Linked DNA regions of Homo sapiens. The protein of the gene in region 2 interacts with the protein of the main gene of each other region in a biochemical or structural test. Each region holds a gene or a part of one and is shown on either strand. Other genes may lie near its edges.

Region 1 (8,122 bases), on a different chromosome or scaffold from region 2:
GGAGGCCTAGGCAGGAGAATCACTTCAGCCAGGAGTTCAAGACCAGCCTGAATGACAAGGTGAAACCCCATCTCTACAAAAAATACAAAAATTAGTTGGGGATAGTGGTGCATGTGTATAGTCCCAGCTACTAGAGAGGCTGAGGTGGGACGGTCACTTGAGCCTGGGAGATTGAAGCTGCAATGAGCCATGAACATGCCACTGTACTCCAGCTTGGGCAACAGAGCAAGACCCTGTCTCAAAAACAACAATAACAACAACAACAACAAAACCCACAAACAAACAAAAACCACTGTCCTTGCTAGTCCTTTATCCTGTTTTATTTTTCTTCTAACACTTCTAGCACTTAACAACACCTGACATAGTCTACGTGTATTTGCTTATTGTATGTCTCCTCGACTAGAATGTAAGTCAGCTCCGTGTTGAGCAGGAATTTTATATTGTGAATCTAAAACAATGCCTGGCATAGAACATGCATTCAGTAAGTACTTGTTAAATGAATGGAAGATGAACCAGATTTTGGACTACTGCTTATGCTGGATGGCATGTAAATTGAAGCTGTGATCAAATACAGGCCATGCCTCTAAACAGCTGATGACCGCTTAGATTCTAGGTGCCATAGATACTGCTGCCTGGTTTGTTACAATACTTTTTTTTTTTTTTTTTTGCTTTTACTCTTTACTATTATTCATTACTGGATGGTGGGTGAGGGGAAAAATACAGAATACATGCCCTAGTCCAGTGCTGTCCATTAGAGCTTTCTTTAATAATGGAAGTAGCCTGTATCTGCTGGTCAATAAGGTAACCAATAGTTACCAGGGGCTGTTGAGCACTTGAAATATGGATATTTTGACTGAACTGAATTTTTAATTTTACAACTAGCTGTGGTTACTAGTTACTGTATTTAGCAGCCATACTCAACAATCCTATAGGTCTATCTTAATTACTTTTATAGGAATGAAGAGTATTATAATTATTTCTCAATTATATATATTTGGTTTTAATTTCTACAGAGGAAGAGGACAACAAAGTTTTGTGAACTATTATTCATATAAGTTTGTAGTTGTTTAAGGAAAAGACTTCACAGAGAACAGGGCAGAGAGTAACACAATATCTGATTTCCAAAAAATTCAATCAAACTTTGATATGGATTTGGTCAAATCATTGTTTAATGGCCTCCTTAACATTATTATTAAACTGATTTATATAATTTGCTTTTTACTAATCAAATACATTGTTTTAAATCTTAATTATTTTTTATTATAAAAGTAATACACATTCAGTGTAACAAGTTCAAATAATCTCTCAGGTGGATAAAATACGGACATCCACCACACTGTACCTACCAAGATGCCCATACCCCAAAGATGATTGCTGTTAAACATTTAGAGTGCCTTTCCTGACTTTTTTGTCTAAGCACCTTTAAAAACCAATACTTTTGGTTTTCAGTGATAGCTCTGAATCCCCTTTAGGCATAGAGTGTGGGAAATTATATTTCTGCAGCAAACTCAGGCTCTGCAACATCAAGTGTGGATTCACTGGAAATTATTTGAAGTAACACTTAGAGATCATAGTAGCCAAAAAATGTTGGGAAATTAAAAAGGGGTTTTTAAAAATTAATTATCGTTATTATTATTTTTTTCAAAGAGACAGGGTCTTCACTCCATCACCCAGGATGGAGTTCAGTGGCGGAATTACAGCTCACTGAAGCCTCAAACTCCTGGGTGCAACCAATCCTCCTGCCTCAGCCTCCCAAGTAGCTTGGACTACAGGCATGCACCAACTGTGCCAGGCTAATTTTTTAATATTTTGTAGGGATAGGGTCTTGCTATGTTGCCCAGGCTGATCTCAAACTCCTGACCTCAAGCAATCCACGCACCTCAGCCTCCCATAGTGCTGGGATTACAGGAGTGAGCTCCCACACCCAGCTGAAAAAGGTTTTTGTGGAGGGAGTATGATCAGGAGAAAAATCATGGAATGTGCTCGAAAGAGATCTAAAGGGCCATGGAAGTCAAAAGGTTGAACTCCATAGAACAAAACATGAAGTATGGAAAGATTCTTTAAAAAACACTTGACTTTGGAACAAAATCCAAATTGTTCCCATGATTTCATTCTTTGACATTATGTTCATTTTGGTTATCTTAGTCTTTTCTCAGAATTCCTCTTTAACAGAGAATTATCTAAAAGCCCCTGGCTAAGTTAATGCTTATGACTATGGTCACAAATGGATGGCTTGGATTTTATTTGTTTTGCAGTGTTTGTAAATTTTTTTATGTATACTGTTGTTGTCAACTAACATAATCCGTATGTATATGGGTTATATATATATATATATATATTCCCCAAATTTAAAAACCAGTTTGGAGATTTTTCCCACACACAGAAAATCAGAAAATTGGCAATACTCTGCCCCATTACCACATGGCAACAATGTAGACAGGCCATGAGTTCTCCACATGGCCCTAATCCCCACCACTCTTAAACAAATCTAATCAGTTTTATGTATATTATATATGTATATTGCTGTGCTTCTCCTTCCTGCCTGACCCTGCAAGACCCCTGTCTCAGTCTCTCTCAACATGTCTGAAGGACTCGAGGGCAGGTGTCAAAGGTGAAGGCCCTCATCTGGATTTAATGTCCTGGACCTTGAAACAGCAGCTAGTGTTTTGAGCTCTAAGCTAACACTTTGGACTTTCTTTTTTTTTTCGAGATGGAGTCTTGCTCTGTCGCCCAGGCTGGAGTGCAGTGGCACCATCTCGGCTCACTGCAAGCTCCACCTCTCGGGTTCACGCCATTCTCCTGCCTCAGCCTCCTGAGTAGCTGGGACTACAGGCGCCCTCCACCACGCCTGGCTAATTTTTTGTATTTTTAGCAGAGATGGGGTTTCACCGTGTTAGCCAGGATGGTCTCGATCTCCTGACCTCGTGATCCGTCCGCCTTGGCCTCCCAAAGTGCTGGGATTACAGGCATGAACCACCGCGCCTGGCCACATTTTGGACTTTCAGTCATGTTTTCTTTCCCCAATGAAATAGAAAAGTTTTATTTCAAAGAGGAAAAGGGTGCAACAGCTGCAACATACATAAAACCTATTTAGTTTTACTTGGGAGTGGGAATCAGGAAACCTGGGTTCTGTTTTTGACTTAGTTTGGATAAAGAAGGGTAGTTAAGCTGTCCTTATGTCTCTTACCAAATGGAGAAAATACTGCTGTAGTTCACAGCAATTTGGGGAGTTTTAGATTCTATGGAAAATGGAAATCCTATTTGTAACTTAGATTTTTTCTTTGGAGAAGGAGTCTCGCTCTGTTGCCCAGGCTGGAGTGCAGTGGCACGATCTCGGCTCACTGCAACCTCCACCTTCCAGGTTCAAGCGATTCACTGACTCAGCCTCCTCAGTAGCTGGGATTACAGGCACGCGCCACCATGCCCAGCTAATGTTTGTATTTTTAGTAGAGACCAGGTTTTGCCATTTTGGCCAGGCTGGTCTCAAACTCCTGACCTCAAGTGATCTGCCCACCTTGGCCTCCCAAAGTGCTGGGATTACAGGCGTGAGCTACCGCTCCCGGTCTAATTTTTAAATTTTTGTTTTGTAGAGATGAGGGTCTCCCTTTGTTGCTCAAGCTGGTCTCTGTCTCTTGGGATCAAGGGATCCTCCTGCCTCAGCCTCCCAAAGTGCTGGGATTACAGGCCTGGGCCACTGCAACCTGGCCTTCATCACAAATTCATTGAACACACTTTCTTTATTTTATCCTTTTTTATTTTTAAAAATTTTTATTTCAGTAGTTTTGGAGGAACAGGTTGCATGGAAAAGTTCTTTAGTGGTCATTTCTGAGATTTTGGTGCACCCATCACCCGAGCAGTGTACACTGTACCATGTGGCACACACTTTCACTTAAAGCATTTACTAGACCTCGCTAGCCAGATTTCCCATCCCTGAGACACCTGGAATGTTCCTGAGGACTTAGTGACTACTGCCTAAAGCTCCACCCAAGTCAATTTTATGTTTACAGGCAACCGGAGCATCCAATCACCTTTCTCTAAGAGAGTACAAAGATCAGCTCGCGAGAAAGTTCAGACGTCTCATTTCGTTTCTATTACACGGGGCCTTCGCCCAACCAGACGGAGTCTTGCTCTGCTGCCCAGGCTGGAGTGCAGTAGCGCGATCTCGGCTCATTGCAACCTTCGCTCCCCGGGTTTAAGCAATTCTCCTGCCTCAGCCACTGGAGTAGCTAGGATTACAGGCGCACGCCACCACGCCAAGCTAATTTTTTGTATTCTTAATAGAGACGGGGGTTTCACCATGTTGGCCAGGCTGGTCTCGAACTCCTGACCTCATCATTTGCCCGCCTCGGCCTCCCAAAGCGCTGGGATTACAGGCGTGAGCCACCGTGCCCAGCCTCGCCGGGGCCTTTTAAGTGACGTTAAAAATTGTACATAAAATATGTTTTAGGATAATACTTGTTTTTCTTTGACCAAAGGCTTGGCTTCAGAGAATGTTTAGCCAGAAATAGAGGGGCGTTAAATCCCCTTTTTTCTAATTTCCAATCTGAGGAGGAAAATAACGTAGTAAAGGGACGCAAGAGCAACCTTGCTTCTTCCACAACAAGGCCCAGGCGCCGCCTTGCAACCCGGAAATGCAGGGTGCAGTGCGGGGGGTAAGGGACCGGCCAACTATGTTGACCCGACTCAGAGAAACCCCGCCCTTGCCGCCACCGCCCACCCATAACGTCCTCCTCGACCCTCCCTCGACCATCCCTCGCCCCGCGGCCCTCACCGAAAAGGGGAGGGCGGTGGAAGAGAGAGGAGTCAAGGGAGCGCACGCGAAGCCCCGCCCCTGCCGTGACGTCTGGAGACGCGACGCGTCGCCTCGCAATGCAAATCGGGAAAAGGGGGTGAGCTGGGCTGGCTTCCGTCCTGGTAGCCAAGGCTAATTCTCCCTCGAGTTCTTGGGAGATGGGCATTTGGCGAGAAGGCTGGCGTTAGTGAAGCGCGCCCGGCGTCACGGTGAGTGCGGGTCTTGGGCCCTAGCACCTGTTCTCTGGGAAGTCGTCCGCTGTGAACGATGAACGCCTTTCCTTCCACCAGCTGCTGGTTACCCCGGAGACAAGCTCTGTCCGCGGAGAGGAGTGGGACAACTCCTAAAGGTAGAATCAGCTTGTGGAGAGGAAAGGCCCAACCTTGAGTCTTTTACGCCATCTACCTAGGATTGCCAAGCGAGTTTCGTGTGTTTTTTTGGTTTTAAAAGGTGGCTTTGACCAATCTTCCGTTCTCTTGGACACTTATACCCGACTTTGACCTCTTTCCTCTTGCTTCCGGTTTTTTTTTTTTTCTGCAATCTGCCTACAATCCCAGGCCTTACTGTAGCTCCTAAAACTGTTTCCCAGTTTCTCTTCTTCCCCAGTCACACTTGATTTTAGTGAAGTTTGAGTTTAAAGACCCTATAAGCTTGTCAGAGTTAAAACTATGACTTCCTCAAATAGAAGATTTTTTTTTTTTCCCCTAAAAAGTGCCTTCCATCCTAGAGTTGTGGGACAAGTTAATTTCACCGCCACTCCACCTTGGAAATTATCAGAATCCTTACTAGCAGTGATGTGCATTATAAAGCTGCAGACCACCCTCCTGGGTTTATTTCTTGCCTCCAGTTCATTCTGTGACCTTGAACAAGTCACTTAATCACTAACAAAAAATTTACCTGACACGGAGGTGTTGCAGAGCCTAAGGAATTTAGTATTTGTTAAGAGACCTGAGGGTTTCAGATGAAAGGGATTTATATCTAAAGGATGTTACCTTTTCTGAATCTGCAAAGCATCGTTAGTTTTGTAAATATCTTGCTGCAGCCATTAAAAATGCCAAGTGGTATTTGTTAAGGAAGTATTCCTGTTTTAGGCTTGCTCTGCTGCGGCTTTGCTATGTAAGCAGATTTTTGCATTTCAGCCGATTCTGTTTAAGATTCGTTGGTGAATGTCATTCATGATGGATTTGGGTAGTTTCTCCTTACAGCATATCCCTGGACTATTAAGCATATCTGGAAGGTGATATCGGTTGTGTTATGTCTTTATCATGTTGATATGGCTGCTTTGAAATATGTATTCCTTTTCTTGTGACACATTGGATGCATCTTTAATATTAGTGAAGACCCTGTAGTAGTTTAAAAAAAAAATACACCTCTCATTAATGAAATTTTGCACATAGACATCTGTTTTTTTAAGAAAACAATGTATAAGAAAAACTAACAAAAATGTTTTAAAGGTGCCTTTTTTAGCATTTCGTTTTTTAATATATTTACTTGGACTTTAATCTTTATGGGCATTTGTTTATTAATGTGGACGTGGCTGGGCGCAGTGGCTCACATCTGTAATCCTAGCACTTTGGGAGGCGGAGGTGGGCGGATCACTGAGGTCAGGAGTTCGAGATCAGCCTGGCCAACATGGCGAAACCCGGTCTCTACTAAAAATACAAAATTAGCTGGGCGTGGTGGTGCACGCCTGTAGTCCCAGCTACTCTGGAGGCTGAGGCAGGAGAATCGCTTGAACCTGGAAAGCGAAGGTTGCAGTGAGCCGAGATTGCGTCATTGCACTCCAGCCTGGGTGACAAGAGCAAAACTCCGTCTCAAAAAATAAAAAATAAAAAGCGTGGACATAATGGAAAATAATCAAAATGACTTTTGGGTAAGACAGTTGGAAAATAAAGCCAGTACATTAAATTTTTTTCATAAGTCTAGCACTATATTACGAACTTTTCTCCATGAAAATGCACTCATATTTATGGAAGTGAAAGGAAAAAAATGTCTTCAGGTATGTGTTGCTAATAAAATTAGATATAATTAAGGAAACATTTAAAAAATACCTTGTTGTTGTCCCAGTTACCTATTGCTGCATAACAAATCACTCCAAAACATAGTGACTTAAAACTGTAATTTAGTATCTCTCCTGTTTCTCTGGCCTGCCTGGACTTAGCTAAGTGGTTTTCACCTAGAGTTTAATGCGTTTGTATTCAGATAAGCAGCTGAGTTTGGAGTCAACCGAGAGCTCAGCTGGTCTGGACATCCAAAATGGCTAATTCACGTGAAGGCGTTTGATGTTGGCTAGGAGTTCAGCTGGAAATGTCAACTGGAATGCCCACACATAGCCTCTTCACGTGACTTGAACAGTATGGCGGCTAGGTTCCGAGAATACATGTTTGAGGAGTCAGGAAGTAGAAGCTGCCAGTCTCCCAAAAAGCCTGAGCCCAGAAATTCGCACAACATTACTTCCAACATACTCTGTTGGTTAGAGCAAAGACCAGCGTACAACCCTCACCTTTGAAAGGAAAAATGTCAAAGAATTTGTGGCCGTGCTTTGCCTACTATAATTTTGATGACAAAGTTGTATTGGACTCTTGTTTGCATTTATATAGCAGATGAAGAATCAGGTACACTTCCAATTTCCAGTTTCTTTCTTTCTTCTTCTTCTTTTTTTTTTTTTGAGATGGAGTCTTGCTCTGTTGTCAGCCTGGAGTGCAGTGTACGATCTCAGCTCACTGCAACCTCTGCCTCCTGGGTTCACGCCATTCTCCTGCCTCAGCCTCCCGAGTAGCATGTCACCAAGCCCAGCTAATTTTTGTATTTTTAGTAGAGATGGGGTTTCACCATGTTGGCCAGGATGATCTTGATCTCTTGACCTGTGATCCACCTGCCTCAACCTCCGAAAGTGCTGGAATTACAGGCGTGAGCCACCGCGCCTGACCCATTTCCAATTTCTTTAACCGTAATACTTTATGTTGTAATGGCATATTACAGTTTTCAAAGCATGTTTTTGTATATTTTTTCACTTGATACCTATGGTCACCCTATAGAAGCAGACAAATAGTTCCTATTTCATTTTGCAGATGAAAGTAAACTGAAGAGTGGTGGTGGTATTGGGAGTGATTTACGGAATTTGTTCAAAGTCATATGATTAATAAATGGAAAGTAAGGCCTGCAACAGTTCCATAATATTAAATTTATTAGTACTGAATGATGAAATATTATATTAAACTTATTTGGAATTCTACATTTATAGCCGTACTAATTTTTTTTTTTTTTTTTTTTTTGAGACGGAGTCTTGCTCTGTCTTCTAGGCTGGAGTGCAGTGGTGAGTTCTCGGCT
Region 2 (7,396 bases):
AAATAAGTTATCTTTACGTTTCTTCTAAATTCAGCTCTTGAATTATAATGTCCAAAATGAGATTCATTTATTCCATAAATGTTTACTGAAAGTTCTTCAGCATGCCAAAAACTGGTCTACAGCTAGGGATACGGCAGTGAAAAAATCAAACAAAAATCCCTGTCCTCACAGAGCTCACATTCTAGTAACATCTTTCGGTGTTTCTTCCAAGGGAAAAGCTATCACCAGCATTGTGTCTCTTTATAAAAAATGTTATATTATATAAATCAGTCAGTGAATTTCTGATTCAGCCTCAGATTAAGACTGAAGACAATTAATTTTGAAGATGTGCAAATGTATACGAGTGTTAAGTGATAAATAACTGTATCAAATGAGTTACTTTAATGTTATGACATATTCATTGGTAGATATGGTGAAAGAAAAAATTGTTAAGTGTATTCTATACACTGTATTCTATATGTTATACTATTAAAAAATAATATGAGTCTACTGGACTCTGTGCAAGGCTTATGTACTGGGAATCTCTGAGGGGTCTTCTTAGATAAACCTTTTGTAATATTTCAATACAAGGATTGTGAGAAGAGAATTGGTCCAATACCAAAACCTGAGCAACTTTAAAAAGTAAGCTTTTCTGGAGCAAAACAATGTTGCTACACTGAAGAAGTATAATGTCTGGCAGGCTCAACTGACACATTCTCAACTCAACAAACATTATTAAACACCTCCTATGTAGCAACCTCTCATTAAGGAGTATAAAACTATCTTGAATGCTAAATAATTCGGTAAAGGCAAAAATGCTAAAATAAGTTAGAGGATTTTGTAAGAAGGTGGAAATTAGAGTGGACTAGTGCAGCGGTTCTCAACTGGGAGGTATTTTGTCCTTCCAGGGGGCATTTAGCAATGTCCTGAGACTTCTAAAATCATGAGTGGGGGCTGGGTGTCACCGGCATCTAGTGGATAAAGGCCAGGGATAAGGCTGAACACCCTACATTGCACAGGACAAACTCCTATGACAAAGATATTTACCTGGCCCAAACCGTCAATAACGTTGCTACTGAGAAACCCTTTGCTACAGTAATCAGGAAATGACTCAGGTGTAACAAGTTGGATTCTGAGTTGGCCTTAACACACAAGGATATGTTGAAAGATAAAAGAAAGCATAAGCGTAGGACAAAAGCATAAAGGCAAGAAGGTGCCTGTGTTTGAACTGGGTGGTACAGCTACTAGGAACGGGTTTGACATTAAGAAATTTACCTGAATCCAATGCAAATATGTGTTCACAAAGTCAGTAGAATATAAAGGTGATTGGGTAGTTGCTAGCTAAATTATACAGGACCAAGAAAACTAGACAAAGGTGCTGTAAACAGAAGAAGCAAGTATTAAGAAGCTGTTTTAAGTATTTCCCCTAGAGATTCATGTAGTGAGATGTAAAACTGCTTGAGAACAGCAACTAGGCCTTGCTCATCACTGTATCTCTTATGTCACTGAGCTGCTGTGTCCTGTAGTGTGTGCTAACTGCTTATTAAATTAAATGCAATTTTCCAATTCATTAAGTATAATCGGTGATCTCCAAGGTTCTGTCCACTGCTAAGATTCAGGACACTCATTTAAGGTGGAACAAAAAAGGTAGCATCTAGTAAGTGCCAACCACATAAAGGTACTGTAGCAGGCCCTCTAGACATATTATTTAACTGCAGAATGGAATGATGTGTTTTCCCCTCTTTAAAGACAAGAACACTGGAACTCAAAGAATTTAACTTGCCTATGATTTCACCGTGAGCTGAGAAGTGGCAGAGGTAAGGAGTGAACTTTTTTCTACTCTTATATAAACTTCCAAGTTTCAGTGACATGCTCTAAGGAAGAGTTTAAAAAGAAAAATTCAACATCCACCTTTCATAATTAAAATACACAAAGACAAGTAAATTCATAAGGTTGTCCTTATTCACAGTAATGATTACATTCTGCCATAAGGGATTTGGAAATGGTATTTGGCTTGCTTTCATTCCACACTTGTGTGCCAAGGTAGTTCCTACGTGCGTTCAAATTAAACCAAAATTCTCTCCCCGGAAACTCAAATTCCCATAATTATTATCTTCAAGTCAGAAAAAAATAAAATAAAATAAAATTAAAAACCAAAAGCAAACCTATTGAATTGACATCATCAGTACCTAATACCAGTGATTCAGAAAACAACAAAAATGTAGCATTTCAAACTCTTTCCAGATTCAACAACTTCTTCCACACTTCTTTACACCTTTTAAAGTGCAGAGACCTAGCCTAAGAGAGACATCCCAAAGGCTCAGGTCCTCAATTCGGTTTCAGTCGTTGCCAAGTATTTCATCTTCATCGCTCCTAACATGTTTGAGAGTCTACCCTTAACCAGAGCTCCCTCCTTCAGTTACCGTTACAAAAGATTTTAAAATCCTCTAAGGAACCTTACCTAAAACATTCTGCCAGTTCCAGACGCTCAACATTTATTTGTCTAGGCAAGCACTTTTGGTACAGGGTTTACAATCCTAATCTAGCCAACATACGCCTTAAGCCCTTCGCTGTTCTTCCAGAAGCACAGTCCCTGCACCAGATGCTACACCAGCTGCTCCTCCCAGGCCCTTTACACCAACCCATTCAGCAGTTCTTTGGCAACCTACAGTCCTAGCTCAAGGCCCATTTCACAGGATGAGTCCCATTTCTTTCAAAGAGGATGCGCCAAGCCCTCAACCTCCTCCCAGCTCTGAAGGAGGGAGCCTCAGGAAAGGGGAAGAGCGAGCTCTTCCTTGGCCCTGGCCCGAGGGTCCTGAATGCAGGCAGGGGCTGGCAGAGTGAGCGTGCAGTCCGGTGAGGAATGGGCAGGGAGAGGCAAAAACACTTACCAACATCCTGATCGAAGGGATTGGTGGCAAAAAGAGGCATCTCCGCTGCGTGCCGAGGTGTCCCCGGGGACTCCCTCTCGACAGCACGGGAGTCAGAGCTCGACGTAGGATGGAAGACTCCTCAGGCAAAAAGAGCAACAGAGACCGACTCTACAGGGTCCGCGACAGCTCCTCCTCTCACCCAACCCCACCAACCGCGGCAGCAGCTGCGGCGGCGGCAACAGCAAGGAGCCGAGGAAGCCCCCGCGCGGAGCTTGTCGGGAATCTGGGCGACCTTGGCGCTGCCTGTCTCAAAGCTGCCCCGAGCCTGCCCCATCGGTAAAGGCTGAACAGGGAGTCCCCTCTGCCTGACTCCTCTTTTAATTAGTCACACATAAGAGTGGAATTAGTTCTTGTGTTTTCTGCTTTTCCCTTGGCTAGGAGTCTCCGTAGGACGGGGTCCTTCAGGCGTGCTGAAGCCTACTAACAACCCCAGGAGTGACTGGGAGAGCCAGGAGAAAGAAAGCAGGTTGAGTTCGGGTCGAGCTGTGCGCCTTTTTTCCTCTCGCTCTCTCGGTTATCATAACCTTGTATTCCCTCTGGAAGGAAATGGAAATTCCTTTGGATCATCTTCTAGGTAAACAGTTTAATTAGCTGCGTGAGGTGACAAACTTGCTCGGATGAAGTCATGGGAGCTGAACGAATTGGCCTGAATCCCAAGAGGGGAGTGTTCAGGGCGCGCGTGTCCCTCGGAGAGGCTGAGGTAACGCTGGCTCCTTCCCGGGAGTCCCTGAACGCCCGGCTTTGGAATCTGCAGACAGCTCTTCTAGCAGGGCGTTGGCACCTACTGACTAACCGTGCAATCACTCAGCAGCTGTGATGGTTGGTGACATGTCTTTCACAGCCCAAGATAGCCTCCCTAGACTGAGCAAAAAAAAGAAAACAGAAAAAAACTGGAGCTAAAAGTTGATCAGTGAGTGATTCCTAGCAACCCAAAATGTTGGTTTATTTATTTTACTTATAAGTTTAGTTAACCAATAAAAATTATTCTCTGTGTGATGGAGAAGTTTTAAGGAGCATCTACTAGAGATGTTGCGTCCCACTTGGAACAAACTTAGTAAGCACATCTTGTACGTAAATGGAAATTATCCCGCAAATTACGGCATCTCCAAATGTAGCGTGGAAACTAATATTGACATGTCAACACAGGATTAATACATAGTAATCAAAGAGTGCTTAAAAATTCATTAAAAATGAAGTCCCACCTCTAAAAGTGAAATGTGCAAATTAAAGTAGCAGTTAGATAATGTTTTGTCATTTAGGTAAAAATTACAAAGAATCGGCCGGGCGCGGTGGCTCACGCCTGTAATCCCAGCACTCTGGGAGGCCGAGGCCGGCAGATCACCTGAGGTCAGGAGTTCAAGACCAGCCTGGCCATGGTGAAACCCCGTCTCTACTAAAAGTACAAAAAATTAGCCGGGCGTGGTGGTGCGCGCTTGTAATCCCAGCTATTCGGGAGGCTGAGGCTGGGAATCGTTTGAACCCGGGAGCGAAACTCCGTCTCAAAAAAAGAAAAAAATTGCAAAGAATCAGGGATGTGAGGAGTCAGACACTCACATACTGTTGGATGAAGTGTAAATACTGTATAATCTTCCTAAGGGAAATATTTGGAAGCATGTAAAAAAATTTTTAAAACCTTAGGACCCAGCAATTCCATTTCGGCAAATTAATCCTAAAGACATTCTTTTAAAACATGAACAAAGGTATACATGGCAACATTGTCTAAAGGATCAAAGCATTGCCAGCCATTAAATGTCCCACATTGAGTGATTGGACAAATTGCTTCACCTCTTGGTGTCTCAGTTTCCTCATGTGTAAGAAACAGGAATAATAGGGTTGTGAGGATCAAATGAATTAGTACAAGCAAAACGCTTATTACAGTGCCTGGCATAGAGTAAGCACTAAATAAGTGTAACTGATCACTGTAATTTACACTGGTCAGTTAAATCATAGTACATAAGATGTGAAAACTACACAGCCATTTAAGGTGCATAATACAGATTCATATTTACATAGACATCTGAATACACAAGTTTTCAGAAGGAAGTTACAAACCTTATAAAATTACAAATGCCCACAATTTTAAAAATCTGAAAGGAAATACATGAGAATATTATGACATGATTGTCTCTGAGTGGCAAGATTCTAGACAATGTTTTTGTTCTTTGTGCATTTTATTATTCAAAATATTTTAATGATGAGCGTGTATTCCTTTCAAAAGCAGAAAAAATGTTAAAATACAACAATGTCAAAAATGGTATGTTGGTACCACCAGTTTCTTAATGTTTTGAAGGGCCAATACCAAAAGCGTGCTTGTGTTTCATTATGACAAGTATAGAATTATTCGGAAATATCACGACTGATACGGAAGTCAGAACATTCCCTCTCAAAAATGTGCTTTGATTGCTGGGCTGACAGAATTAGGTGACAACTTGTTTACCTTAAGATCCTGAGCAGTGTCTTGGGCCATTATCATAAGTGCCTGAGCCAGATATTGGTGGCTCAGACTGGGTGTATCAGAGCCAGATATTGATGAAAATGCATTTGTACATGTTCTGTACTCCGGACTGAATTACTCTGTTGCCAGCAATAAGCCAGGGCACAAACTGTTCAAGCCTTGATTATCAATATGTGTGCACTGGGAGTAATACATACTAGTATTGAGAGCAGTATCCGTGCATTCTGACCTAGAATGACTTTAGCTGTGGGGGCAGGGGGGTCTCGATGATTAATGTGCTGTATAAATAATAAACATTTTTTAAATATAAAATTTTTAATATTTAACTTAAAAGACAAACATAAAAAGTGAAATGCTTTGTATTTTGTGGTTAACGTCCCTTATTATCCCTTTAAAATACTGAAATTCTATGAGTTTCACTTTTAGTATTACCACAGTTTTTAAAACGTTTTGAAGACTACATATCAATGGCATATTAAAATGTTTCTGTAATGTTGTATGTTTAATAAATTCTGTGGTTGTTTGTTAAATGTTATATCCCTTTATTCTCAGTTTGATTTTGAAAATTCATCTACATTAAAAACAAAAATACTGGCCAAGTGTGGTGGCTCATGCCTGTAATCCTAGCACTTTGGGAGGCTGAGGCAGGTGGATCATCTGAGGTCAGGAGTTTGAGACCAGCCTGGCCAACATGGCGAAACTCGGTCTCTACCAAAAATACAAAAACTTAGCTGGGCGTGGTGGTGGGCAGCTGTAATCCCAGCTACTCAGGAGGATGAGGCAGGAGAATCGCTTGAACCTGGGGTATGGAGGTTGCAGTGAGCCGAGATCGGGCCACTTCACTCCAGCCTGGGCGACAGAGAGAGACTCTGTCTCAAAAAACAAAAAAAACAAACAAAAAAACAAAACAAAAAACAAAAAACTGGTGTGCAAATAGAGTTACTACACGAAAAAGTCTATAATTTTCAAATTCAGGAAAAAGAATATCCTAGGAAGGTTTTTAACAGTTTAATAATTCCAGCCCAAGTAGGAATGATTACTATTTCTCAGTCTTTCCTCTTCCTCTGCATTGTCACTACTTTAGTTTATACCCTCATCTCTTAGGCAAGTTACTACATTCACCTCCTGCTGTCTTTTCTCCTTTCCTACAGCTGTGGACTGAATTGTATCCTCAAAAATACAAATATTGAAGCCCTTATGCCCAATGTGATGGTATTTGGAGACAGAATCTTTGGGAGATAATTAGAGTTAGATGAGGTCATGAGGCTGCGGCCTTGCTAATGGGATTAGTGCCCTTATAAGAAGGACACTGGATTGCTTGCTGTCTCTCCCTCTCTCTGCCATGTGGGGATGTGGCGAGAAGGCAGCTGTCTGCAGGCCAGTAAGAGAGCCCTCGCCAGAACCCAACCATGCTGGTACCCTGATCTCAGACTTCCAACCTTTAGAACGGCAAGAAAATTAATTTCTGTTGTATAAGTCACTCACTCTGGTATTTTGTTATGGCAGCCTAAGCTAGCTAATACAGCTATTACCTCTAAACCATTCTCTGTCTTACCGCCAGAATGATTTTTCTAATACACAAATCTGATTATATATCATTTCCTTAAAATTCTTATAGGGTTTCTTCAGTTACTCAGTCATTCAGCAAATATGTATTAACTCCCACGTGTGCCAGGTAACATTTTAGATGCTGGAATTATAGGGATAAAAGCTCTGTGAGATTTAGCCTTTTTGGAGTACAGCCTTTGGGGAAGATAGTCATTAAATAAAAAATTAAATTAATTGTATGATTACAAGTGTGCAGAGTAGCCTTACCTTCAGGATTAAACCCCCCTTCTTTAGCATTACCTCCTTAATGAACTGACCTCTCAGTAACTCATCTCTTCGCAGTTTTTTTTCTCCTACCCTCTACGTTAGCCTTTCTGAACTACTAGCATTCGCCCCCATGCTTTTTGTATCTTCAAACAAGCAACTCTTTCTGCTTTTCCTGCTCTTACTCTATTTAGGTCCTAGATCTCCTCTAAACTTC
Region 3 (7,278 bases), on a different chromosome or scaffold from region 2:
CAAGTCCGAGCCTCCTACCTCCTTATCCAGAGAGGCTTCTAGGTGCAAGGGCTTGTCCGACATGAGGAACTGCCTGGTGGTCTCGGCTGTGGGCTGGGGGCCAGGCCTCTCTGGGGCATACTGAACCTTCCGGATGACCAGACGCACAGAATTCCTAATGGAGATGGGCGGAGTGAAAGAGGACCAGGGTCACCTGCCTTCATCCCCTCTCCTTGCGAGCCTCACATCATTCTCCTGCTCAAGAGACTGGCATGGCTCTCCATCACCTTAGAATCCAGCCAAACTGCAGAGATCAGCATAGGGGTCTGTCACCATCTGGCTCCATTCCATCCTCCCCTGTTCTGTCCCAGAAGTGCCCTGTGGCTGCACTTCATTTGGTCCTGGTACCCAGCAGGATGCTGAAACAGGGACTACATTTTTCACCTCCTGCTTCCCTATGTCACCAAATAGGTAACATTGTCACTTCCTGACTCCCTATGTCACCATACACAAATAGTGTCCCTCTGTCATCTATTTTGGTGACATAGGACACTATTTGTGTAAGTTCTTTAAGGACAGAAATTTGTGTCTAAGGTGTTCACAGCTGTACTCTCAGCACCTATGACTGTGCCTGCCATATAATAAACAACTGCCAGATATCTATTATGTAAAACTATGCAGAGGGGACAGCGGTCTCAAGAAGAAATGGGGCTTGGGGAGGCGTTGGGGTTCAGGGAGGAGGCGTGGATTCAGTCAGGGGGATGCAAGCCAGTGAAGGGGACAAGCCCAGGGAGGGGAGAAGGCCCATGGATGAGACTGGCTCCATGAAGATTACAGGGGATCAGGGAGCAAATGAGGATCTGGTGAGGGAGGGGGACTTGGTGAGGCCGTCTCTGTGGCATGCTGGGAATGCCGGCATCTCCGTTGCTCAGATAAGCTGCCTCCATTGCCTGTAACCAGGGAGCCAGGGTCAAACTCCCAGCTCTCCTCTTACTAACTATGTGGCCCTGGGTACATTAACCTCTCTCTGCCTCTGTTCCCTAATCTGTAAAGGGTGATGACAGAAGGACCTACCTCTTTTTCTCCTTTTTAAATTTTTATTAATTTATTTATTTTGAGATGGAGTCTCACTCTGTTGCCCAGGCTGGAGTGCAGTGGCGCAATCTCAGCTCACTACAACCTCTGCCTCCCAGCTTCAAGCAATTCTCCTGCCTCGGCCTTCTGAGTAGCTGGGGTTACAGGCATATGCCACCACACCTGCCTAATTTTTGTATTTTCAATAGAGATGGGGTTTCACCATGTTGGCCAGGCTGGTCTGGAACTCCTGGCCTCAAGTAATATGCCTGCCTTCGGCCTTCCAGAGCTCTGGGATTACAGGTGTGAGCCACCACGCCCAGCAAGGACGTACTTCTTAGAGCTGCTGTGAGGATTAAATTAGTTCATACAGCCCAGCACTGTAAATGGTGTCTGGCACCTAATCAGCCCTTGATAAATGATAGCTTCTATATCATTATTATTAGTAACTCCTTGGTGTGGATTTTAAATGTCCCATTGGTGGTAGGGTGAGAGGGGTGGCTCTCGATGTCACCTCCTCTTTCTTGTGCTTACCAAGCCTCCTCCCACATCCCACAGCACCCTTCCTCTTCCCTGGTCTCAGGTCTTAAGAGGAAAAGGGAGACAGAGAAGCAAGGGAGAAAAGTCCCATCTCCTCACACACAGCTGCCAGGGCTGCAGATGCAAATGCATGCAATACACCCTATAGCCACCAGGTGGCAAACTCAGCCCACGCCCTAAAAAGGCTGCTGTGCCCTCAGCCAACCTCCTCTGGGACCAGTGCCTCTGGATGCAGGCACATCAGCGTCGAGGGCCCACCAGCTATTCCAGGAGGCAGACAGAGCACAGCCCGACCCAGGAGGGGCAGGCATGAGACATCCGGGCCAGCTGTTTCTGGCTGCCAGCCTGGGCTCTCTGTCTGCCCGGGCTGTTCTTCTCCAGAGAACGCTTCCCATCTCTTAGATGTGGGCCGACCTCCCTGTCACTCTCCCCTGGATGGGTTCACTATCTCCACTTCCTCCTCACTTAGAAGCTGCCATTGACACACACTCCACTCCTGCTGAACGCCTCCCAGGAGGAAAACTGGAAAATGAGAATGGTCAGGAAACAGCCTGCTCACTGTTTAACACAATCTGAATTTAGGGTTTTTCCAAAACAAATTAAAAAGACATGCAGTCTGGAGGGGATGAAATGAGAGGCAGGGAGATGAGGGAGGAAGCTGCCACAATGGTGCAAAGGAGAAGATGCTGCAGCCTGAACCCAGGCAGTCGAAGCCACCTCCCCAAGGAAGCCCTCCGTGACCTCCCAGCTTCCAGAGTGCCCTTCCAAGGCTGGAATGTGCGCCCCTCCTCACACACTTCCAGGTATTGTTACTTATCTCCTCTTGGACTTTGCCCATCCTGTCTCCCTCCCTCACCCAGCAGGCGGCCCACACCCTGGCATCCTACTCACCGCTTGTGGATCTTCTCCTCCAAATTCTCCGCGCAGAAGGCTTTGACTTCATAGTCCACACCGCAAGCCTGTGGGGAAGGGGTCACTGACCACAGGGCCTTGGAGAAGCAGGGTCCCCAGTACACAGCCAGCCCACCTCTCATTTTACAAACGAGGACACTGGACAGGAACACCAAGCTCCCACAGCCCAGCCTTCCTTGGTCTGGAAGAAGCGGGGGAACGCCCTTGTGCTCAGCCCCAATGCTGTGCTGCCTCCTCCATCTGACATGGGACATCTCGAACCACCCAAACGGGGCTCTGCTCTTTGGATTCCTGCCTCAGTCTGGGTGGCCGTCCTCATCCAGGCAGCTGCCCAGAAATAGCAACAGGCACCTGAGCAGACTGGGGGCGCCTACTACTGTGTGCACACCCGGCCCTGGGTGGCTTATCCGGTATTCCTCTAACAAGACAAGGAGGCACGTGCTGTTATCTCCATCTTGCAGATGAGGAAGCTGGGCTCAAAGCTCTGGAGCTAGTGGTGTCACTTCTCTCCAACCCTCAGTTTCCCCATCTGTGAAATGGGGATGATCGCACTTTGATTCCAGGTTGCCAGGGGTTACATGAGGCCAGGTGTAGGTCCTCAGAACACTTTGGTCCTGTTGCAGCCAACGCCACCCAGGAGAGCCTCCAGACCCATCACTGAATGGGAGAGTGAGGCTGACCCCGTACCTGCTGCCCTGTCTGAAGAGAGACTGGTTGTCCAAGGTGGGACCAGCTTAGCCTAGACACAAAGACTGTTCAACAGGGAGAGTGGTCCTGTGTGTCCAGCACCTCCCAGGGAGAAAGCCAGGGACCTGGGGACATGAGACTCCTGGAGCCAGAGAGATGGTCCCCTTGGGGTGACCTACCTTCCCCGTGTCTTCGGGCCCCGGCTGCAGTGTCACAGAACATGGAAGGTTTGGAGGGATCTGTCAAGAAGAGGACAGAACGAGCCACCTGTCACATCCACCACTGTCCTGTCTCATGTATTGCAGCCCAGACACTCCCATACACCCATCAGACCAAGGGCCCCAGGGGACAGGCCATGTCTATCCCATCAGACCATGCCAAGCCATGCCCCATCTAAAACTCTTTAGATAAAGAGCTTTCTTTATCTAAAGGGTTTGGCCCAGCCCAGTCCTCGCAGCAATGGTTTAAATAGATCTTTCTATGATGTCTACTGTGGTTGGCAGAATAATGTTCCCCAAAGATGTCCACACCCTAATCGCCCAAACCTGGGACCTTAATGACAAAAGTGACTTTGCAGATCCAATTAAGGCCTTGAGATGGGGACCGTATCCTGGATGATTTTGGTGGGCCTAGTATAATCACAAGAGTCCTTAGAAGTGGAAGCAGGGGGCAGAAATGTCTGAGCCACAGTGATGGGATGTACAAAAGACTCAACGGCCACTGCTGGCTTTGACAATGGAGGAAGGCACTGTGAGCCAAGGAAAGCAATGCTGGAAAAGGTGGACGCTCCCCGAGGGCCTCCAGAGGAGCCAGCCCTGCCACGCCTCCATGGTAGCCCACTGAGACCTGTTTTGGGACTTCTGACCTCCAGAGCTGTAAGCTCATACATCTGTGTTGTTTTAATTGCTGCCGAGTTTGTGGCAATCTGTTTCAGCAGCCATAGGGAGCTAACATGTCTACGTAGAAAAGGTGACTCCATGACCCTCTCCACTCTCTCAGCCTCCAAGAAAGGGAGAGACCACACTGAATCTCAGAATCAGAGAGCCTAAGAAACTTGAGATTTTGAAATCCAGCATCTTAAAGTCTCTGATTTGAAAGGTGGTGGGGCAGACAGATCACCTACTTGCCATCCCTCTCTTGCGAGCTGGGTTGCTGCCGGGCAAGTGGGGAGCTGATCTGAGCGGGAAACCCCTTGCAGTGATGCAGGGTCCAGAAAGGGCTCTTTCTTTCTCTGAAGCCCCTTAGCACCCCCTTTCTCCCACCAATGACCTGGCCTCAGAAGGGTCTGAGGAGTAGCCCAAAGGTACAGGTGACAAACCCCAGCAGGGGCTGGAGAAGAGACACTTACCAGGTAACACAGGTGACAGTGCCCCAGGTCCCAGCATACACTGGGAAACTGGGTGGCAGGGAGCAGCTGACCCTCACCGCCCTCTTATGCCCACCCCAGAGGGCTTCCTAGAGGTGGCATTTCTGGAATGGGGCCCCAGGGATGGCAGTTCCTGACCTCAAAGGTGAAAGGGTAAGCGTGCTCGCCCAGCTTCTTGATGAGGCGTTCCTGCAGCCGCGTCAGGGGCTTCTTGTCCTCGGGGGCCGGTGGGAACGACTGTACGTTGGCCACAAACAGGTCCTTGCGAAAGGTCAGGCCCAGGACATCCAGGTCCTCCCGGCCATAGCGGAAGGCGCAGGTCAGCGTCACATAGACTGTGGGGAGCGAGGAGCACTGAGGAGGGGCCTGGGAGAGCAGCAAGCGAGCCCCCCAGAGTGCCGGCAGCAGCCCTGGGACGGGCCCCACTGGAGGCCCCAAGCCTGTCCCAAGCTCTGTGGGGATGGCTGCACTGTCTCCACCAGGAGGGCTGGTAGTGAGTACCGGAAGGATGCCATGGCCTGGCCCCTGGGAGGAGGAGGGGGCTGCCTGCTGAGCCAGCTCTGTCCTTCCCCCTCCCACCTCTCCCCAGGGCATATGTGGAGGGGTATGGAAACGGTCTGACAGGCTTGGCGGGGGCTGGAGTAGTCTGGCAGGCCTGGGGTGGGGGTAGGGGACCTGGGGAAGGAGCAGGGAGTTGTGGGGGCAGGGCAAGTGCTGGGTGGTATCTGGACGGCAAGCGTCTTGTCACAGCTCAGTCTGCACTCTTGTCTTCCTGCGCATTGATACTGCCCCGGTATCAATGTTCTGTTCTGTTAAAGAAGAACCTACTCCTACCCTGCTGGCATCCCCAGCCTTGCCACAGTCATGACATATTGATGTGAAAGTGCTCAGGGCATGGGGAAACCTTCTCCCAAAGTAAGCTTGGGGCAGGGCCGTCCCAGGCTGGAGGAGGCAACGGCATCTGTAGAGGTATTTGTTGGGGCTTTCAGGGGAACCAGTGGGGATGGGCAGGGAGTTCCTATGCTAGAGGTCCGGGGGGAAGAGGAGGCGGCCCTTGACAGGCTGGGGATGGGGGCCACAGCCTACCTCTCCGCTCTTTGAGATACTCAGGATCCACCAGGACCACACCATCTGGGGAAAGGACAGAGAGTAAGCGGCCTCTCCCAACCTGGTCTCCCAAACCTCTGTGCCCCAAACACCAGCCCAAGCCCAGATCCAACCATCTGTTCATCTAAAATCATCCTGAGAAAAATGGAAAGGCGGGCACCTAGAGGGTGGCACTGCCCACCTCCACCACGCTCCACCCTTCCCCCATCCCAGGCCAGTATAACAGACCCAGCTGGTGACTTTAGGCAGGTTAGAGACCATTTCTGTTTCTTCATCTGCTAGTAAGAATAATAACCTAGGTCCGAAACTCCTAGAACCAGGTATTCTTTGGAATTTAGAAATTGCGAAGTATAGAGAGGCAAAATGGGCCGGGCGTGGTGGGTCATGCACATAATCCCAACACTTTGGGAGGCTGAGGTGGGCGGATCACTTGAGGCCAAGAGTTCAAGACCAGCCTGGCCAACATGGTGAAACATCAACTCTACTATAAATACAAAAATAGCTGGGCATGGTGGCGGGCCCCTGTAGTTCCAGCTACTCGGGAGACTGAAGCAAGAGAATCACCTGAACCTGGGAGGCAGAGGCTGCAGTGAGCTGAGATCATCCCACTGCACTCCAGCCTGGGCAACAGAGCGAGACTCTGTCTCAAAATAAAATAAAATAAAATAAAATAGGCAAAATGGTACATGTTCCATATATTCTGTAATGACCTCTGCAAGATCTGTACCTTATTATTAAAGCCATTAATACCTCTGTAGGAAAACACAAATATTCTCACCAAGAGGCTAAATAAGGCATAAATAGCCTCGCATCAGTTTGGGTCAGGTTTGCCAATAAATGAATTCTGCATTAAACTTGGAAGCAATGTTAGGTTTTCAGAGCTTGGGCTTGGCACATGTGGATTGGGGGTTGTGATCTGCAGTGCCTCCCTCATGGGGCTCCCGTGACGACTGAATGGGTACATGTGTGAATGTGCATATGTGTACAGCGCTTAGACAGTGCCAAGCACTCGAGAGCACTCTGCAGATTGTGGAAGGCGCCTCAGTGCCCTGAGGCCTGCCCTTGGGGGCAGAGTCCAGCTGGACACAAAGGACATCTCTGCTCAGCACCCCAGGAGGCCAGAAACACTGGCTCAGGGTCACCCCCTTGGCTGACATCCCCTGTCTATCTTTGGCCAAACCTTTCTTTCCTCTCTCTCTCCCCCTACCCTCTAACCCATTGTCACTTCACTGCTGGTGGAAGAGGAGGGCCAGGATGGATCATCAATGTCCTGTTGGGCAGGCCAGTGGGCTTGGACTTGTGTGCAGGTTTGGTGGGGAACCGGTAAGCATAGGGAGGGTGTGATCAGATCAAGCCAAATGGCAGCGTCACTATGGGAGAAGAATCTCTCACAGTGAGTCCCTGATCAGCTCTGCACAGTGCCCCAGAGTTCTCGGGGATACCAGGGCTCACAAGGGGCCTGGCACAAAGGGGGTGCTCTGTGAACACCTGCTGAACAGCTCTCAGGGTGCCTGCGTGTGTTGGGGGCTGGTTTCCTGCCCCTGTCCTCTCCCAGTCTCTGGGCCACCTCTGCTGCTGTCCTTAGTAGGCCAATGGACATGGACAACCCTGGC
Region 4 (7,278 bases), on a different chromosome or scaffold from region 2:
TTCTACTAAAGAAAAAAGCATTTAAAAAAATTAATGTGCATGTAGAATTTTACATGCAAGGAAACTAGTTCTGAATACACTTAGAAGAGTCATTACCTTTGTCAAGTACTCCTTCATGACCTGGATGAAATAGGGCATGGCAAAATCCATGATATTGTGCCTCCATGCAGTTTCTAGGACGACATCTGGCCTTAAAAGATCGTAACAGGTAAACAGACAAGCTCCAAAGCACTCTCTTTTTTCTTCCTGCAAAAACCACTGCAGGAGTTCTTCAGCCAATTCAGTATCTTTAGATTCAGAAGCATACTGCATTGCATCCTATTCAAAGAAATAGTGAAAGTCAAAAACATTAGACCCCACATACTGAACTAGTAAACCAAGAAAAACAATGGAAACTTTCCAATATAAATCTGGTTTTGCAAGGGGAAAAAAGCCTCCTAGTTGTATCATTTAAATTAAAATTTTCAAAGAAGAGATAAGCTAAAAGCTTTTTTTTCCCCAGACAAGTTTGACCTTAACATAAGAGAGCCCCTAGAATCAAGAAATCCATTAACTTAAATTGCCTTAAAGTCAGCTCTCATATTCACAAAACCAATACTTTTATTTATAGATTATAATCACTTGTAACACCATTTTAGGCCTGGTTTAAAACAGCCCCTGCCCCGCAACTTTATCAACCTTGTAAAGGCTGTCTTTCTTGCACAGCTCTACACTCTGTTTCCAGCGATTGTTGCCTTTGAAGAGATAAGCAGCAATTCTCCTGAACTCAATGAGTTCATGTTTTTCCAAACGCTGAGCAAGCGAGATATTGTCAAAGTTGTCATAAGCATCTATTGATGTTCGCAGAGCCTTAAAAAAAAAAAGCCATCCAAATGCCAGATCAGTATTTTGTTTAACATTATATTCCGTTCTCAATCAATGAGCCCCTTAGATGGTAACATGTAATATGACACCTAGATTCAAGCATCAAAAGGTATGATTTTTCATTTTACCTAAAGATACCATTTTCTCCAAGATTTTCACTATCAAGGACTAACATATGGCTATGAAATGGACAATATTTCTAATTTGGAGGGCAAGATTTTTTTCTTTTTTTTTGAGATGGAGTCTCCCTCTGTTGCCCAGGCTGGAGTGCAGTGGTGATGCAATCTGGGCTCACTGCAACCTGCCTCTAGGGTTCAAGCGATTCTCCGGCCTCAGCCTCCCGAGTAGCTGCTACTACAGGCACGTGCCACCACAACCGGCTAATTTTTTTGGTATTTTAGTAGAGACGGGGTTTCATTGTGTTAGCCAGGATGGTCTCGATCTCCTGACCTCGTGATCCGCCTGCCTTGGCCTCCCAAAGTGCTGGGATTACAGGCGTGAGTCACCACGCCTGGCATGGAGGGCAAGATTCTGTGCTCTAGAGAAACTTCTGATAAAACTCAGCATGGCAGCAGTACAGATCTGCATGCGCTGAGCCTCAAAGAAAATGAAGAGAGAGAAAAAAAGGCAAGTAGCTTAAGCTTAACTCTACTTCACTTTTGCTTGTGAAATCCTTCATAAGAGAAAGTTTATACAAACACTAATAAAACAGTAGGCAAGAAAAATGGTGAATAAATATAGTTAATACCAAATAAATTTTATGAATTAGTTAAGTGGTCAAAGACATTTTTGACTCTACCTACAATCTAGATGTTAGAGATAAAGTAATCATATCATTTTTTTCAAAAGCAGTATCTTATACAAGATCTGAGCAAAATTCTGAAAACTTGGCACTTAATTAGAAGATTTATCAATCCTGAAATCTTACTAAATTTAGATCCTAGGTATGCAAGCACCTACTGTTTACAATCCTAAAGGATAATGGCTTTTTTAAAAAATGGGAAAACATAACTTTATGAGTCTTGAGATTATGTGCAAGAATCAAAAGGTTTTACCTGATAATCTTCTTCTGTAATAAAAAGATTGTTCAATGATTCATTCACAGATTTGTTGTTATGGTTCTGAACTGAACGCAAATACGGTTTCACCAGTGGTAGCTGTTTAACCTTTAAAATAAAGAGTTTGTTACAAATATAGCACATTATTGAAGTCCCAGGGACAAAAGTTATCGAAGTATGTCCTAATTCCTTGCTATGAAGCTTTGGTTTAAAATTATTACTTTACCTTGCTGAAATAATTGACTGCACGAGTGTGATCCAACCGTGGAGACAGCACCATCAGCAAATCATTTAACAACAGAGGCTTGAATTCTAAGTAGAACTGTATTGCTCTGTAGTATAGTTCCACATTGGCAACCTACAATGGGAAAATCCATACATAAGTCAGTTACTTCCTAATGAGCTTTCTCCTTCTGAATCCTTTATCTTCTGAAGAAAGTACACACCTTGGTAATGATATCTTTGAATTGCCCTTCTTTCCAGGCATCAGTTGGATGATTCATCATGGTAATTATGGCATTATCATATTCTTCATACTTGTCATACAAAAACACCAGTTCTGCCCAAAGATGAGCTTGTTCTGCAGCTCTTAGCACCTGCATAAGAAAGACTTAATTGCTTTAGATATGAGTCTAGCTAACAGCCTTAAAAAGAATAAGATATTTTGAAGCATTAGTTTTAACTACACAGTTGCTTCACTGTGTTACAATGACTGGTTACCTTGGGAATATTCACTCTAGACCAGAACAGCTCCAGGTGCTCCCTCATTTTCTGAGGCTTAAATTTAGAGTATAGAATAGCTAATTCAGTAAACATTCCCATGTGAGCTCGCTCAAGTCCCAGTGCTGCTTCCAACATGGTGATCAGCTCTTCAAAATAGCCACGATCCTGAACAAGAGAAATGTGCAGTTAAAGATAAGAATATCTATGGTAAAAGATCTCAGGTCATATAAAAGTCTCGTTAATACCTGATAGTAGTTGATAAGTTCTTCTAATTCATCTGCATGTACAACAATATGAAGTCCACACATCTGAGCAAGACGGAATTCTTTCCCATCTACACAGGCGAAGCAGACCTAGAATAAACATTTCCTTTCTGTGAACTCAAATGTAAAACATGGCTAGTTATTTAAACTAATGTTTAAATAGCGTTTCTTTAATTCTTCACTCAAACTTGGGTTTAGATTACCTCTTTCCATGTTCGAGTACTGTTAGCTTTCCTAGCCCCATCAACAGCTGCCTGATATTCACCCAGGTGAACCAGGGTAGATGCCAAACGTCCAAAATTGGAAACATTATTGTACAACAACTTAGCAGCATCATACATTTTTTCATCATAACAACGGTCACCAACCTGGAAAAAAAAAGGTAACCCACATTCAGCAAGATATTAGTGTGAGCTTAATCCTCTTTTCAAATTGATATCTTCACAATGAGAAAGAATTTGTTTTCCTATAGATTTTTCCTTGGAATTCTTCAGTTATGATGTTTTGATCCTACCAAGCTAATCAAGTAGCCCAACTAGTTTTTCTTAAATCTGAAAAGGAAACCCACTTGTTGGATATGAGCATTATTTGGTCCATTGATAAATTCTTCTAACTCTGCAAGGCGGTTTGTTTTAGCCAGTGCGAATATCAGTTCTGTCTCCACATAGGACTCTCGAGCCTTCTTACGGGCCATCTGCAAGTACTTCACCAGTTCTTCCCAGTTTCCTAAGTATAGAAAAAGAAAAAATATATCCAAACACTAACATCCTAGTTTATCTTTCACCCAAGTAAATGAAAATTGCATTCATTTCCTTTTCAAGGAAACATGGATAATGACAAATGTAAACCGTGCAATATTTCACTTCTGTATTATCACGGACCAAATGAATAGATGAATTCTTTTTCCTTAAAGTTTTAAGATTAGAGCACTATCAGGATTTTATGAGACTTCAAAAACAGAAGATTCATCTTCCCCACTTGTAAGTTTTGTGAACTTACAAATTCACAAAATACAGCCTCTTTTTATCTGGACTAAGATGGAGCACTAAAAGAAACCATGCAGTATCCAACTCTTCTAAAATTCAGAATAGACAGATATCTTAATGCTTAGCTTAATCATTTTATGAGGTTTCAATACATAAGGTAAGAAGTCATACCACTAGTATTGGCAGCCTGAACAACTTCCATGTAGGAGGAAGGATCATCTGCTTTGATATAAGAATCAATGGCTTCTTTCACCATTCCTTTCTGCAACTGGGCTTTTGCAAGTTGACTCCAGACCGCAGGTTCATTGCAACGTTCAGCAAACTCATATGCCCGATCCAAGTTTCCAATATGCTCAATTAAGACCTAAGTATCCAAGTTTGAAATTAGGGTTAGAGTAAAATCAATCCTACCCAAAGCAATTACATTTAAGCTGTTAGTATTTTATTGCTGCTCTATTGCCGTAGCAACCAATTAGGCCCACCCTCATAGCACAGTGTTTAGTAATTCAACTTAGGTAATCTGAAGATTTACCTGAACTGCTGAAGTATTGACATCAAATTTCCGGAAAATGGCAAATGCTTCTTCAAACAGCTCATTGCTGATGGCGATATTGGCAATATCTGGGGCATCATAATTATCCAGGCGGTTAATATACTCCATAACACGTGTACGGTCAGCCTTAATTGCAGTGAGGATAAGGAGGTTTTGCAGATTCCTTTAAGAAAAAAAAGAATATTTTAAATGCAATATTTTAAGTTTATCCGACATAAAAAATAACCACTGTGACTAACGGAGAGGTTTTTGTCTCAAGAGGTAGGGTAGGGGGGAGGATATTAGAAGAGTGAGAATTCAGGCAACTTTCTCTGATCTTTTTGTTCCTTCCCAAAACTGATGGGCCATAATTTATTAAAGACTGACTATAAATAGCCAATGGATCCCTCTGAAAGCATACCTGTGTTCACTGAATACAGAGTTATCAAGGACAATTTTCTCCAGCAGTTCAATGAGTTCATTAGGAAGGTCTGCAGTCATGAAAGCCTTTACAGTTACTGACACTTCTTCAGGGTCCTGAGTCTCAGACAAAGCTGTTTGTACAACCTACAGAGGATATATGGGACATAAGTACTGAGAATCAAGTTGGTTTTAAAAAAGCGTAAGTTGGCCTCTCATTAGAAAACTTGAAATAGGCAGAAAAGAATGAAGTAGGAAAAAGACCTTTAAATTTACATAGAGAGGTCTTTCTACACAAATCTATACAATATGTATAATTGTGTTGAAAAATTACTCTAATTATATAATTTCTATCTTTTCCCTGATTAAAACATTATCCAGGCTAGCAATCATCATTATCACTTTAATGGCTACACATAATTCAAAATTCAGCTACACAGATGTGGAATTAAAATATCGGTAATTCGTCTGGTTTTGGCTATTTGCTTGGTTTTCTAGATGCTGCAATGATTTCCAACCATCGCCCCCACCCCCACAACCTTCCCCTAGGAAGCTTTGTAACTACTTGGGAATGTTGCTTAGAAGTGCTTCCTAGGAAAGGAATGAAATATTAATAGCCTTCAACCTATTCGTTTCCAAAATATTTTATTTATACTTATCTCAGGAGAATTTAAGACTCATTATAACAACTCTTCTATTTTTAGAACTTTTAAAATATGTTGTCTATTTTATTTAGGTATAAAACCCCATCTCATTTGCAGTTCTATACTTCTTATTAGTAAGATATAACACTGATGCACTTGGTCTTTTGTATTTTCTCTTATCCTTATATTTTTCTGACTTATTATCTTGAAGTTTCCAATCAATTTAGCCACTTAAGTGTTAATAATAGCAATCTTTAATGTTTAGTTTGTTATTTTCCTTTTAAACTATGATGAACCAAGAGAGTTTTATATAATTAAGTCAGGTCTTTTGGGATGTATTTTCTTTTTCTTTTTTCTTTTTGTTTTTTTGAGACAGTCTTGCTCTTATCACCCAGGCTGGAGTGCAATGGCGTGATCTCGGCTTACTGCAACCTCCACCTCCCGGGTTCAAGCGATTTTCCTGCCGAGTAGCTGGGATTACATGCACCTGGCTAATTTTTGTATTTTTAGTAGAGATGGGGTTTTACTACGTTGGCCAGGCTGGTCTCGAACTCCTGACTTCAGGTGATCCACCCACCTCGGCCTCCCAAAGTGCTGGAATTACAGGCGTGAGCCACCGCACATGGCTTATTTTTCTTAATGTATGTTATATACATATTTATACTTATATAAATGTACATTCATTTGTATATAATGTATATAATCAATTTACATTCATTATATACAAATGAATGTAAATTGAATATATATAAATTTTAATTTTCTTCTACTTTGTATTGCTTTCTCTCATAGTTATATATGATCCATTTGAGTACATGATGAGGGAAAGGATTGTATTCATAGTTAAAAATGTATAATTTTTACTGACAGCCATAAACACATTTGCCAATGTTACCTGGTCAATTAGGGGTCTCCTGTAAGGATTGCTTTCCAGCAGCACGCTGCCCCACAATTCTGGATCCTTTCGACGTACCAGGTAGCGAGAAAGACTTTTGAAGAGGGAATTCTCATTGCAAACCTAAAGAAGATATGATAGATTAATTTCAAGGTAAAAAGTAAAGGACTTTTTATAGCATTTTAGAGGGTATTTCCTATCTTTTAAACTATGTTTATTGATAATCTTACTGATATTGGATCTAGTTTTGGACTTTGATTCATGTACCAGTAATATACTGTTTTAATTATATAGACTTTGTAATACACAGTTCAACATCTGGTAGGACTAGTCCACTTTTACAGTTTTCAGTGTTTTACTAGCTGTTCTTGTGTGTTTATTTTTCCATGCGTATATGCACATGTATGTACATAAATGAGCATATGTATGTACATAAATGTAACTAAGCCCTGACCACTGAAAGATCTTAGAAGCAAATACACTAAAGCTCAGATCTTGACTTCTAATATTTTCAGAAAGTAGGAGTCTTGCTCTGTTGTCAAGGTTGGAGAGTGCAGTGTTGCGATCATAGCTCACTGCAACATTGACCTCCTGGGCTCAAGTGATCCTCCTGCCTCAGCTTTCTGGGTAGCTTGAAACCAAGTGCATGGCACCTCCCCCCAGCTAATCATGTAATTTTTTGTAGAGACGGGGGGCTCGCTATGTTGCCCAGGCTGGTTTCAAACTCCTGGGCTCAAGTGATCCTCCTGCCTCGGCCTCCCAAAGTGCTGGGATTCTAGGAGTGAGCCACTCACCTGGCCCAGATCTTGGTTTCTAATGCCCCAGTAAAAGGTTCCCTAGGGAAATGACTGACTTCAGGGCTGCTGAAGGTACAAAATGAGCTTGGTGTATTG

The links.
Region 1: the proteins of STAM (region 2) and USP8 form a complex in vitro, tested with the Homo sapiens proteins (2 studies listed by BioGRID).
Region 3: the proteins of STAM (region 2) and ARRB1 form a complex in vitro, tested with the Homo sapiens proteins (2 studies listed by BioGRID).
Region 4: the proteins of STAM (region 2) and CLTC form a complex in vitro, tested with the Homo sapiens proteins (one study listed by BioGRID).

What each region holds. Positions count from the first base shown.
Region 1 is NC_000015.10:50,419,514-50,427,635, forward strand, and holds the start of USP8 (ubiquitin carboxyl-terminal hydrolase 8), read left to right. Parts: upstream 1-4,891; 5' UTR 4,892-5,001; exon of another isoform or gene 5,002-5,141; intron 5,142-8,122. UniProt on the Homo sapiens protein: Hydrolase that can remove conjugated ubiquitin from proteins and therefore plays an important regulatory role at the level of protein turnover by preventing degradation. Converts both 'Lys-48' an 'Lys-63'-linked ubiquitin chains.
Region 2 is NC_000010.11:17,639,854-17,647,249, reverse strand, and holds the start of STAM (signal transducing adapter molecule 1), read right to left. Parts: upstream 3,100-7,396; 5' UTR 2,911-3,099; coding exon 2,871-2,910; intron 1-2,870. UniProt on the Homo sapiens protein: Involved in intracellular signal transduction mediated by cytokines and growth factors. Upon IL-2 and GM-CSL stimulation, it plays a role in signaling leading to DNA synthesis and MYC induction. May also play a role in T-cell development.
Region 3 is NC_000011.10:75,278,591-75,285,868, forward strand, and holds part of ARRB1 (beta-arrestin-1), read right to left. Parts: intron 5,690-7,278; coding exon 5,645-5,689; intron 4,894-5,644; coding exon 4,697-4,893; intron 3,432-4,696; coding exon 3,372-3,431; intron 2,553-3,371; coding exon 2,485-2,552; intron 155-2,484; coding exon 19-154; intron 1-18. UniProt on the Homo sapiens protein: Functions in regulating agonist-mediated G-protein coupled receptor (GPCR) signaling by mediating both receptor desensitization and resensitization processes.
Region 4 is NC_000017.11:59,678,627-59,685,904, reverse strand, and holds part of CLTC (clathrin heavy chain 1), read right to left. Parts: intron 6,509-7,278; coding exon 6,386-6,508; intron 4,994-6,385; coding exon 4,848-4,993; intron 4,611-4,847; coding exon 4,427-4,610; intron 4,259-4,426; coding exon 4,066-4,258; intron 3,635-4,065; coding exon 3,477-3,634; intron 3,277-3,476; coding exon 3,112-3,276; intron 2,999-3,111; coding exon 2,891-2,998; intron 2,811-2,890; coding exon 2,643-2,810; intron 2,519-2,642; coding exon 2,369-2,518; intron 2,281-2,368; coding exon 2,149-2,280; intron 2,031-2,148; coding exon 1,920-2,030; intron 850-1,919; coding exon 679-849; intron 319-678; coding exon 97-318; intron 1-96. UniProt on the Homo sapiens protein: Clathrin is the major protein of the polyhedral coat of coated pits and vesicles. Two different adapter protein complexes link the clathrin lattice either to the plasma membrane or to the trans-Golgi network.